Regions from separate parts of the Homo sapiens genome. Here regions 1 and 3 are each linked to region 2. The links come from fine-mapping of genetic effects on gene expression. A gene starts in region 2. Each other region holds a variant in brackets. All regions are shown on one strand. Distances are between the middles of the regions.

What was found. PIP is the estimated chance that this variant, and not a neighbour inherited with it, causes the effect.
Region 1: its variant is the best candidate, but not a certain one, in a credible set for the expression of GOLGA7 in lung (TOPMed, PIP 0.78).
Region 3: its variant is the best candidate, but not a certain one, in a credible set for the expression of GOLGA7 in whole blood (INTERVAL, PIP 0.70).

What each region holds. Positions count from the first base shown.
Region 1 is chr8:41,450,674-41,454,915 of GRCh38, forward strand. No RefSeq gene overlaps it. Among named protein-coding and RNA genes, the nearest start is that of SNORD65B, 26 kb to the left of the region's middle. The variant T/A (reference allele first, on the strand shown) is at 2,281.
Region 2 is chr8:41,488,220-41,492,461 of GRCh38, forward strand. It overlaps GOLGA7 (golgin A7), which reads left to right and starts at 2,363. Exons shown (of 5, transcript NM_001002296.2): 1 at 2,363-2,746. The coding sequence starts at 2,636. RefSeq lists a silencer at 1,994-2,253 and enhancers at 2,304-2,433, 2,724-2,833, 2,884-2,993.
Region 3 is chr8:41,511,392-41,515,633 of GRCh38, forward strand. It overlaps the pseudogene KRT18P37. Among named protein-coding and RNA genes, the nearest start is that of GINS4, 16 kb to the right of the region's middle. The variant GTACATGAGATGTTTTGA/G (reference allele first, on the strand shown) is at 1,673.

The sequences.
Region 1 (4,242 bases), 38 kb before region 2:
TCTCTCTGGCTTTTTCAGGATTTTTTTCTTTATCTTTGATTTTTTGTAGTTTGAATATAATAATGTGCCTAGGTGTAGGGATTTTTTGGATTTATCCTGCTGGTGTTTTCAGAAATTCCTGGATCTGACATTAATATGGAGAAATTATCAGTTATTATTGCTTCAAATACAGTTATGCATTGCTTAACAATAGGGATGCATTCTGAGATATGCACTGTTTGATGATTTCGTCATTGTGTGAATATCATCGAGTGTACTTGTACAAATCTAGATGGAATGTCCTACTACACATCTAGGCTACAGAGCATGGCATATTGCTCCTAGGCTACAAACCTGTACGGCATGTTACATTACTGAATTCTGTAGGCAACTGGAACACAATGGTATTTGTGAATCTAAACATATCTAAACATAGAGGTTGGGCGAGGTGGCTCACGCCTGTAATCCCAGCACTTTGGGAGGCCAATGCAGGCAGATCACTTGAGGTCAGGAGTTTGAGATCAGCCTGGCCAACATGGTGAAAACTCGTCTTTACTAAAAATACAAAAATTAGCTGGGTGTGGTGGCAGGCACCTGTAATTCCAGCTACACGGGAGGCTGATGCAGGAGAATCACATGAACCCAGGAGGTTGCAGTGGAGCCAAGATCATGCCACTAGGCCAAGATCTTGCCTGGGCGACAGAGCAAGACTCCATCTCAAAAAAATAAATAAATAAACAAACATATCCAAACATAGAAAAGGTAATACATTGCACTACAACACTATGACAGCTACCACATCACAAGCAATAGGAGTTTTTTGGCTCCATTAAAATCTTACAGGACCACCATCTTACATGAGGTCTCTCATTGACCAAAATATCAATGTATTGATTCCAGTTTCCGACCTGTATCATTGTCTTGCTCTCTAAAAAACATCTTTTAACATTTTTTTTTTTTTTGAGAGGCTTGCTTTGTCACCCAGGCTGGAGTGCAGTGGCGCGATATCGGCTCACTGCAACCTCCATCTCCCAGGTTCAAACGATTCTCCTGCCTCAGCCTCCCAAGTAGCTGGGATTACAGGCGCCCACCACCACATCCGGCTAATTTTTGCATTTTTAGTAGAAATGGGGTTTCACCATGTTGGCCAGGCTGGTCTCAAACCCCTGACATCTTCTTCTCTTCTACTTTTGGTATCCCATTATACATATGTTATGCTTCTTGTAGTTGTCCCACAGTTCTTGAATACTTTGTTCTATTTCCTTCTCTTTGCTTTTCAATTGAAGAGGTTTATATAAAGATATCCTCAAGCTCAGAGATTCTTTCCTTAGCCGTGTCCAGTCTACTAATGTGCCCACCAAAGGCATTCTTCATTTCTCTTAGAGTGTTTTTTTGTTTTGATTTTAGAGACAGTGTCTTGCTCTGTTGCTAAGGCTGGAGTGGAGTGTCACAATCATAGCTCATTACAGCCTCGACCTCCTGGGTTCAAGCAGTCCTCCCACCTCAGCCTCTCAAGTAGCTAGGACTACAGAAACACACCACCACATCTGGCTTTTTTTTTTTTTTTAACTTTTTGTAGAGACAGGGTCTCACTATATGCTCAGGCTCATCTTGAACACCTAGCCTCAAGCAGTCCTCCTGCCTCGGCCTCCCAAAATGCTGGGATTATAGTGCTTCTGATTTCTAGCATTTCTTATGGTTCTTTCTTAGAATTTCCATTTCTCTGCTTTCATTTCCCATCTTTTGTTGAATGCTATCTACTTTATCCATTAGAGCCTTTATGCATATGAATCATAGCTGTTTTAAATTCCCAGTCTGATAATTCCAACATCCCTGCCATGTCTGAATCCGGTTCTGATGCTTGCTCCATCTCTTCAAATGTGTTTTCTGCCTTTTAATATGCCTTATAATGTTTTGTTTAGTAACATGGGAGTGAGGCGTCCGTGTGTCTTAGGTAACCCCCAGCAGGTTTCCATGAATATCAGACCCTTCACATCCTCTCTACTCTCTATTCCTGCCTACCTGGCCCAGGTCTTCCCGCAGTGATTGGCTCTGAGCTGGCTCTTACCCAGCATAGCAGATGTAATGCTCCCTCTAGCCCATATCCCTGGAGTAGGGTAAGATGGATCTTCTTGCTCAGATGTTTGGGTTAGCAAAGGCACCCCTAAAGGAGATGGATGGCCCCGCCATGGAATGTGTCCAGAGCCCTGGATGTTGTCCAGGTGCCTGGGGAGCTAAGCCATTAGTTCCACTGTCTGACTTCAGTCTCTCCCTGGTGCCGGGAGAGATTGATTGAGCCCA[T/A]GCCCTCGGGATGGGGGTGGCAGAGTGGGAGTGGAGAGGGAGGAGGAGCTGCAGTAAGTCAGACAGATGGGGTGTCACAGGATTGGCAACTTGCCTTTCCCAAGAGGGAATGTGGTGGGGTCGGGGAGGGAGCCCAAGGAGAAGGAAGCTTCAGCCCTGTTGACCCTGTCTCCAGCAATTACCGGAGGGGCCGTGATCCCTCTGATACCTGCACAGGGAACAGATGCAGTTGTGGCCAGCATGCTAGGTCACTTTCTTCTGCCAGTGCACTATGGGCCCTAAATGGATCCCAGATGCTCTGCTGCAAAAGGGGGCTTTCTTCCAGCATCCCAGCCTATCTTGAGACAAAGAGAATGAAGAATGGGGATGGGGATATGCTGGGGGGATTCCCATTTCTCTGATGCAATCTAGAAAAACAAGCCAAAGTTATCCAAACATTACCCAATGGCAACAACACACATTGGGGACTACTAGGGGGGCGGGGGGTGGGGGCCAGGGCTAAAAAGTTTCCTATTGGGTACCGTGCTTACTACCTGAGTGATGAGATCAGTGGTACCGCAAACCTCAGCATCATGCATATATCCATGTAACAAATCTGCATGTGTATCCCCGAGTATAAAATAAAAGCTGATTTTTTTTAAGTTATCAAAGAAAGTCCAGGAGGCACATGTAGTGCAAAATAATGTTAGTGCACGGGGTCAAAGTACTGGCACTCAGTAAATCAGTGGCTACCTAACTTAGCATTTCCTACAAAGAGCTAGATTAGCAAGTCTCAACCAAGAAAGGGACTTTTCTTTTAATTCTGGAAAGTAGGAGGTAGCTTGAAAACACTATCCTCCCTCCCTCCCATGCCCAATGGCAGAGGATAACCCTGTTCAGTGTTACAGAAGGGGAAACCCTTTACAAATGATTTAGCAACTCTAACCTTAAGGAGCTCAGCCTCATTAGAGAGATCACTTTCCCACCCTAAATCATAACCATGGAAGGTAGAAAAACCCCAGAGATTCAGTCTCCTTGTTTTAGATAAGAAACCTGAAGCCCAGAGAAAGAACGAGAGTTGCTGGAAAGTCCAGCTTTGCTTATGGGAAGGATTACAGGTTTAATATAAAACAGATGAAAACCTAAATCTGAATCTGAACTGGTCCCCTCAACAGAGTGTGTTTGCATGTAAGTGTGCAAGTGCATGCCCATCTGTGTGTCTTGTGTAGCACTGTAGTTCTGAGTCAGTGTACTTTGACACAGTGGTGTGTGGCTCACCTGCAAACCATAGCAAGCAATTAGTGATCAATATGTAAAATGCATTTCTTCGACATACCATTACAAAATATGTGTTGGCTAGAACATGGAGCTGAGAGGGTCCTGTAACATGGCATGGATATAACCTGCAGTTACATGCATGAGGGTCTGAAGTGAATGCACCACAAAAGAGCTTTATCTCATGAGTAATTCAACCAGCACGATGGCGCAGGAAGCAGTTCTGTTCCAACAGCATCATGATACCCAAAGATGGCCAAAAGAATAAGGCAATAAGAGTGAATTTGAAAGTGGGTCACAGGCATGAAAAACCTAAGCCCACTTCCTAATTGATAGAGAAAGTTCAAGATATGGCCGGGTGCGGTGGCTCATGCCTATAATCCCAGTACTTTGGGAGGCCGAGGTAAGCAGATCACTTGAAGGTCAGGAGTTCAAGACCAGCCTGACCAACATGGTGAAACCCCGTATCTAACAGAAATACAAAAAAAAAATTTAGCTGGGTGTGGTCTTGGTGTGGTCTTGGGCGCCTGTAATCCCAGCTACTCAGGAGACTGAGGTGGGAGAATCGCTTGAACCTGGGAGGCAGAGGTTGCAGCGAGCCAAGATTGCACCATTGCACTCCAGCCTGGGCAACAAAGTGAGACTTTGTCTCAAAAAAAAAAAAAAAAAAAGACAGATGGAACCACAAGGCTACATCCCAAAGTGATG
Region 2 (4,242 bases):
CGAGTAGCTGGGACTTATAGGCGCCCGCCACGGCGCCCGGCTCATTTTTTGTATTTTTAGTAGACACGGGGTTTCACCGTGTTAGCCAGAATGATCTCGATCTCCTGACCTCGTGATCCGCCCGCCTCGGCCTCTCAAAGTGCTGGGATTACAGGCGTGAGCCACCGCGCCCGGCCCCCACTGATTTTCAACAGAGATACAAAGGCAATTCAGTGAAGAAATGAGAGTCTTTTCAACAAATGGTACGTAAACAACTGAATAACAACTGCATAATCATACGGGGGGAGGGAAGAGTTTCACTCTATACCTATGGGAGGCAGAAATGCCCTCCCCAAGAGGTCCACACCCTAATCCCCTCAAACCCCTAACGTGTTAAGAGAGTAAAAAGACAAATCACAGACTGTGAAAAATGCATGCAAATCACATATCTGATAAAGGATTTTTCTCCAGAATGTATAAAGAACTCAAAACTCAAAAACAGCCCGGCCAAGTTCTCACGCAAGTATAAAGGCCTCAGGAAAACATCTTTAAACATACAAAAATCCAAGAATTAAAGTGCCTTAAAAATTTAAAACTGACCTTAAGCCCAGCCAATAAAGATGTAAATCAAAACAAAATAAAACAAAAAACCCCTCAACAACAGGAAAATAAAATACAAACAAAAAAATGGGCAAAAGTTTTAAATAGACACTTCACCAGAGAAGATACATGGATGGCAAATAAGTACAGGAAAATATGTTCAAAATAATTAGTCATGGAAAAATGAAAATTATAGCTGCAGAAGATATTACTACCCAAGTCTTGGCAAAGATGTGGAGCAACTGGAACTCTGGTGGGAATGCAAAATGGTGTCACCACTTTGGAAAACAGTTTGTCAGTCTGCCAAAAAGTTAAACGTGTTTTTACCGTACAATCTAGCCATTCTACTCCTAGGTATGTACCCAAGAGAAATGAAAGCATTAAGGTCTACACACCTATGCAAAGACTTGCAAATGAATGTCCATAGCAGCTTTATTTGTAACATCCCAAAACTGGAAGCAATCCAAATGTCCATCAACAGATGAATGGATAAACAAACTGTGGGATGGCCATACAATGGAATAGCTATCCAGCATCAAAAATAAATGAATTATTGATAACACAACAACAGATGGACTTCAAAATAGTCTATGTGAAAGAAGCCAGGCAAAAAAAGGGGGTACACACTATATGATTCAATTTATATAAAATTCAAGGAAATGAAACTAATGTTGAGTGACAGAAGGTGGATCAGTGCCTGGGAAATGGGGTCTGGGAGAGGCAGGAGGGAGAGATTACACAGGAGCTGGAGGAACCTTTTCAGGGCAATGGAGCTTTACTATCTTGATTGTGACAGTGGTTTATGGGTGTATTCATATGTCCAAAGTTATCAAATCCACTGCTTTAAATGTGTGGTTTATTGTATGCCATTTATATCTCGAAAAAGCTGTTTTTAAAATACAGTAAGAGAATTTTTCATATTTAAAAGGCAGGATATTTAAACTATATTAAATATATAAAAGACAGTGGTACTAACAGGTTGTATTAGCAGGAGACAAGGGTAAGGTGGGGTTTCTTTGGCTGCCTTGCAAAGAAATGCTGAGTCAAGTAAGGGCCAGTGGGCAACGAGGGCGGAACCACTTGTCCCCTTGGTCACCTGAGGGATGTGGATGGGAGCTGGGTGGAAATGGGGGGTGAGAGGAACGCCGCCCCCAAAGAAGAGTCGGGGCAGGGGCGCCCAACGCTGGGGCCCAGGCAGGTTCTTCGTCCTCACTTCCTGACCCTTTCTCAAGAGTCTAGGGACCAAATGGATCCATCCTTGGAGCCTGCTTTCTACTTCTGAACACAATGAGCAGTTTGTGTTTGAGGGTTTGGGGAGGGGGTGTTGTTTTTTCTTTATGTTTTGTTTTTTGTTTTGTGTATGAGTTGGGTGGCATAACCCACACGTAAGCTGCGACGTCCAATCAAGAACGAAAATGACCCCTCACAATCAGTGATCGGGAACCACCTGCCACAATCACTAGGGAAGTGACACAGCCGGGAAACTCCGCCCCTCACACCCCCGCGCGCTCGCGCCGGCCGCAGCCCCACAGCTCGCCCCGGCCGCAGCCCCACAGCTCGCCCCGCCTCTCTCCTTCCGGAAACAATCCCCGCGCGGGCGGAAGGCGGGGTCGGCCCTGGCCCCGCCCACATCATTTCCCTTCCTCGGCCCAGCCCCACAGCGCGCAGCTTCGGCAGGGTGGCTTTACGGCCGGAGGAGAGGGTGGGTCCCAGACCTGAGGTAGGAGGCCGAGCTGAGGGGCGGGGAAGAGGCTTTTTGCGGCAGGACGTAAGTGACGGCGAAGGCGGTGCGACAGCAGCTGGAGGGCAGAGGAGGCGGGTTTGTGTTTCCCGGGCCGAACCGGGTTGTGGGGGGCGCGGGGCCTGGGCCAGGCGGCAGCTAAGGCCCGCGGTGACAGCATGGGTGAAGGGGAGCGGGGCAGAGGAGGCCTTGGGCTGTTTTCGGCGGCGGGTGGGGGCGAGGGGCTGGCGGGTCAGAGTCCCGGGTCCAGGCCGGGGCTCTGACTCGCGGTTGGTGTTCCCCCGACCCCGCAGCGCGGGGTGTCCTGTCCTCGCCATGAGGCCGCAGCAGGCGCCGGTGTCCGGAAAGGTGTTCATTCAGCGAGACTACAGCAGTGGCACACGCTGCCAGTTCCAGACCAAGTTCCCTGCGGAGCTGGAGAACCGGGTACGCAACCTGGCTCCCCACGCCTGCTCTGGCGAGGGAGAGAGACTCACCGGGGACGGGAAGGGTGTGGGCGACAACCGGGCCTTTGAGGGTCCCGCAGTTCTGGGGAGGTCCAGGCACAGAAGGGGCCTTGGCCAAACGTGTAAGAAGAGAGCCACTAAGCAAGACAGGTGTTTGGAGCAGGAAGAATAATATAGGCCGATCGCCGGGGTTGACGACCTTATGGAACTTTGTTGCCCGGTGCCGGGAATCTGGATCCAGCAGTGTTCCCCTGCTGCACTCCCCCAAATCCCCACCCCGGGTTATTGTCGGCAGCGATGAGGAGCCAATTCCTGAGGCTCCAGGTCGTCTCAGTCACCAGGTTGTAAACTATATCCTCCTACCTCTCCGCGCAAGATAAATCATCATCATTCTCGTGACTGGTGTTTGCTGCCTCTGTGCTGGCCGCACTGTTTGGCTGAAAGGGTTTATTAGGTGCATGGCCAGGCGGTGCGTTCAGGCTTTCTTGGAACCTTAAAGACGTCGGGCGTTAGATAGGCCTGGACAGGAAAATGTCTCAGAACAAGGCCTTAAACTTGTCACATTCACTGGGAGCCACCTGTTTTGTCTTGCATATCAAAATGGTCATCAGGATATAGGTCCTTTGGGCAACATTGCAGGCAAAAATGGAAGAATGGGATTTGCTTCCCCTTCAGACCTAGCAAAACTTTAAAAAAAAAAAAAAAATCATTGTATCTTGTTGTAGAGGTAATGGAGTGTGTGCGTGCCTGCCTGTGTTTTTGTGTGCCCACATATGTACATTCAACCAAAGATTCTTTTGGTCTTGACCCATGTTATGTAGATTGTGTTTCCCGTTCAGGGATCAATTTCTGGTTAGCTGGAAGCAGGTTTTGTGGCTCTCTCCTCTGTGACAGGGAGGACGAGGGCCTGAGAGGTGATTAGGCATTCCTTGGGTGTGGGACTGAGAGATGCTGGTCATGGGATAAGTGGGTGTGGATGAGTCTGTGTAGAGAAATGTGTAGCAGTTATTTACAGTCAGTTTGCAGTGAGGTGGGTTGCACTGCCCGATTTCCATGGTTGGGAAATCAACAATGATCCATTATAGTTTCCTTCAGTTTGACATAACCATGGGCAGCTTCATGGCCCAAATATGTTTCTTGAATTGCAAATGGATCAAATATGCCTTTAAAAGATGGTGAGGTGACTTGTTTCTGAAATGCCATTTAAATGCTGCAGTATGTTGTCAACTATGTTATGAGTTAACTGAGCGTGACAATAGGTGGAACTATCTACAGTGGTTTGAAGAGGTAGAAATTCAGCAAGTGGCCAGTTGGGTAGAGCTACTGAATGTTGTTTTAAAATAATTTAACATCACAATTGATGTGTTTTACATGTTAAGATTGACATGGAATCTGGCTGGGCCCGGTGGCTCACGCCTGTAATCCCAGCACTCTGGGAGGCCGTGGCGGGTGCATCACTTGAGGTCGGGAATTCAA
Region 3 (4,242 bases), 23 kb after region 2:
TCTACCAGTTTCTGGGGCGGCTTGGGGTCTGGGGGCCTGGCCACAGAGATGGCTGGGGGTCTGGCAGAAATGGGGGGCATCCAGAATGAGAAGGAGACCATGCAAAGCCTGAACGACCACCTGGACTACCTGGACAGAGTGAGGAACCTGGAGACCGAGAACTGGAGGCTGGAGAGCAAAATCCAGGAGTATCTGGAGAAGAGACCCCATGTCAGAGACTGGGGCCATTACTTCAAGACCATCAAGGAACTGAGGGCTCAGATCTTCGCAAATACTGTGGACAATGTCCACATCATTCTGCAGATCGACAATGCCCGTCTTGCTGCTGATGACTTCAGAGTCAAGTATGAGACAAGAGCTGGCCATGCGCCAGTCTGTGGAGAGCAACATCCATGGGCTCTGCAAGGTCATTGATGACACCAATGTCACTCTGCTGCAGCTGGAGACAGAGATGGGCGCTCTCAAGGAGGAGCTGCTCCTCATGAAGAAGAACCATGAAGAGGAAGTAAAAGGCTTGCAAGTCCAGATTGCCAACTCTGGGTTGGCCGTGGAGGTAGATGCCCCCAAATCTCAAGTCCTCGCCAAGGTCATGGCAGACATCAGGGCCCAATAGGATGAGCTGTCTCAGAAGAACTCAGAGAAGCTAGGCAAGTACTGGTCTCAGCAGACTGAGGAGAGCACCACAGTGGTCACCACACACTCTGCCAAGGTCAGAGCTGCTGAGATGACACGGAGCTGAGACGTACAGTCCAGTGCTTGGAGATTGACCTGGACTCAATGAGAAATCTGAAGACCAGCTTGTAGAACAGCCTGAGGGAGGTGGAGGCCCGCTACGCCCTGCAGATGGAGCAGCTCAACAGAATCCTGCTGTACTTGGAGTCAAAGCTGGCACAGAACTGGGCAGAGGGCCAGCGCAAGGTCCAGGAGTACAAGGACTTGCTGAACATCAGGGTCAAGCTGGAGGCTGAGATCGCCACCTACCGCCGCCTGCTGGAAGACAGCGAGGGCCTCAATCTTGGTGATGCCCTGGACAGCAGCAACTCCATGCAAACCATCCAAAAGACCACCACCCGCCAGATAGTGGATAGCAAAGTGGTGTCTGAGATCAGTGACACCAAAGTTCTGAGACATTAAGCCAGCAGAAGCAGGGTACCCTGTGGGGAGTAAGAGGCCAATAAAAAGTTCAGAGGTCAAAAAAACATCAAGGAATAGTCCATGGTAATTAAAAAATGTATATTTTTTTTGAGATGGAGTTTTGCTTTTTGCCCAGGCTGGAGTGCAATGGCACCATCTCGGCTCACTGCAAACTCCGCCTCCCGGATTCAAGTGATTCTCCTTCCTCAGCCTCCCGAGTAGCTGAGATTACAGGCGCCCGCCACCATGCCCAGCTAATTTTTTTATTTTTAGTAGAGACAGGGTTTCACCATGTGGGCCAGGCTGGTCTCAAACTCCTGACCTCAGGTGATCTGCCTGCCTCAGCCTCCCAAAGTGCTGGGATTACAGGTGTGAGCCACCACACCCAGCCTAAAAAACATATTTAAAGAAATAAGACATTGGCATGTTTCATTAGGAAAAAGGCATCACAGTTATTGTTACTATCTTGGATCACCTGATGACTCAGTGTAGTTTTATTATTTTTTTTTCTGGGTACATAGGTGTCTATATTCACGGT[GTACATGAGATGTTTTGA/G]TACAGGCATGCAATGCGTAATAATTACAGTATGTCAAATGGGCTACTCATCCCCCTCAAGCACTGTGTTACAAACAATCCAAATACAGATTCCATTTTTTGTTTTTGTTTTTGAGATGGAGTTTCGCTCTTGTCACCCAGGCTGGAGTGCAGTGGTGCAATTTTTAGTAGAGACAGGGTTTCGCCATATTGGCCAGGCTGGTCTAGAACTCCTGAACTCAGGTGATCCAACAGCCTCAGCCTCACAAAGTGCTGGGATTACAGGCGTGAGCCACCGCACCCGACCCAGACTCCATTTCTTTTAAATAAGGTAGATTTGTAGAAAATTAACAACTTAGAAGTTACAGTCCATAGTCCAACTTTCTTTTGTAAGCTTATTTTCCTATATAAAATGTTCAATGTCTCTCCTTATCCAGTGAAACTCATAGTAAATAATACTTATATAGCCAGGAGACAAAAAAGAGGTCATAACACCTCAATTAAATTTCTTCTGTATTCCACTTAGCCCTGGCTCCTAGCATAAGTTAAAGCTACAGTTTCCCAGGAGTAACATGCTTTGTTTTTTGTTATTTGTTTTAATGTCAAAGGAAATCAGAGTACTGGTGCCATATCTGATTTATGTACTTACCTCCTCTCCCCTTCACCAGCTTCTTTCCCCCTCCAAACAAAGGAGATTGTACATTCCATGAGGGCAGAGGTGGTTTCCTACTTACCCTTGCATCCACCTCACACTCCATGCATCCTCATACACAGTGCTACAGATACTTAGCTCTCACATGTTTGTAAAGTGCATAAATGAATGAGAGGTAAGTTGACCCATCAGGTCATTAACATCAGAATAGAATTACGGTGCTACACCTGGATTGGTGCGGCGTTTGTCTGGCTTTTGATAGGCAGTGATTTGTGTGCTCCCTTGGTAAAGTCTTCTAAAACTGGGAGGAGATATCTGTGGCTTAAGCTCCAATAGAGTGGACTTTTGCCTGGAGATAAGTACCCTTGAGGATCCCAATGCCCTTTAATTCTAGATTAGGAATTCCCAGGGAAAGGAAAGGAATTGCATCGAAACCTCTGAGTTGGGTAAAGTAAATAATAAATAAGCCTCCTGCTCATACTTTGTCCTGTATTATTCTCTATGTAACATTAAATCCAGCTATGATTGAAACTGCAAAACTTAGAAGTCTATTTCTCCTTAATTCTTTTAACTTAGTCTTCTGATAAAAGCTTATTTTCAGATAATTTCCACTTTTCAAAATTCTCTAAGGACCTAATAAAGCACAAACAATACTTTGTACTCATTTGAGTTCTTGCTACTGAATTTCTCTATGTAAAATCAAAGTTACAAGAACAATATGAAAAAAGGTGCTTGTCACTCATTAGATAAAATGAATCAAGCACGCTTGTAGTCTAACATCACCAGAGACTACTCTGTAGTGCAAACACTAACTGAAACAGGCCAGAGTCATCCCTGTCCTCATGTGTGCTTGCTGGAAGGATAAACATCGATGACTGTAACCATTACACAGTGACCAGCTTTAATGTGCAAGGGTGTCAGTGTGAATGATTTTATTCTACCCCACCCCCAAGAGCTGGAATAAATGGCTTTATGATGGTACTCTCCAGTACTGTACTCAAAACTTGGAAATGTGTAGAGAACGGCAAACATCTGATTAACATCCCATTTGCTGTGGATTGTTGGGAATGTCAAAATGGGGATTGTGGACCACCTACGTGCTAGGATTGTTAGGGGTACAGCAATACATGTATTTTGCTCCAAAATGAGTAGGCACAGAATTACAGAACCAAAATAAAGATCTTGGCTCTTCTGAATTATATCCTAAGTTCTTCCCATATATGTACCTCAAATGCTGCAGATACGAAGTTCTGTGAAATTCTGCCTACAACCAGGAAGCCCTATGGGAACTTAACGCCTACTCTTTACATTTTTAAGCCTCCATTTTGCAAAAAAAAAAAAAAAAAAAAAAAAAGTTTTTATGAGTTAGGCACTACCAAAGATCTTTGGTTAAGGGTTATTGTCAAGTGAAAACAAGTTTATGCTAGCAGGATGTTGTGGGTTTTTAAAAAAATAGTATCTGAGCAATAAAAGGATTTATTGACTTAGTAACTTATCTAACTTTGTGCTGTCACATTTTACTTTGCTAGTGAAATCTTTAATCTTCAGATTTATAAACTATCTTTGAAGAAATATTTCGTTTCACCTACAAAGAGTTCTTTAAAAAAAAAAAGCAGGAGACCTAAAAATCCACCTATTAGCTGCCATATCTGTTGTTCTTGATCTTTCTGTTTCTGTTCATGTATATATCCTCTTACCTCATGTTTTAACAGACCTGTTTATTGCCAGGAAATGATAATAACTTGTATTCAAAATGTTTTGTTAATTACTCTTCACGGAGCAGCCGAGTGTCAAACAACATAGCTAGCTCAGATTCTGGGATGTGCAAGGGCTGAGAAACATAGATGTGATCTTTTCCTCCCAACAAAAGGATTCATGTGCACAACTTGCACATCTTTGTTTATCTCATAAAATCTACAAAT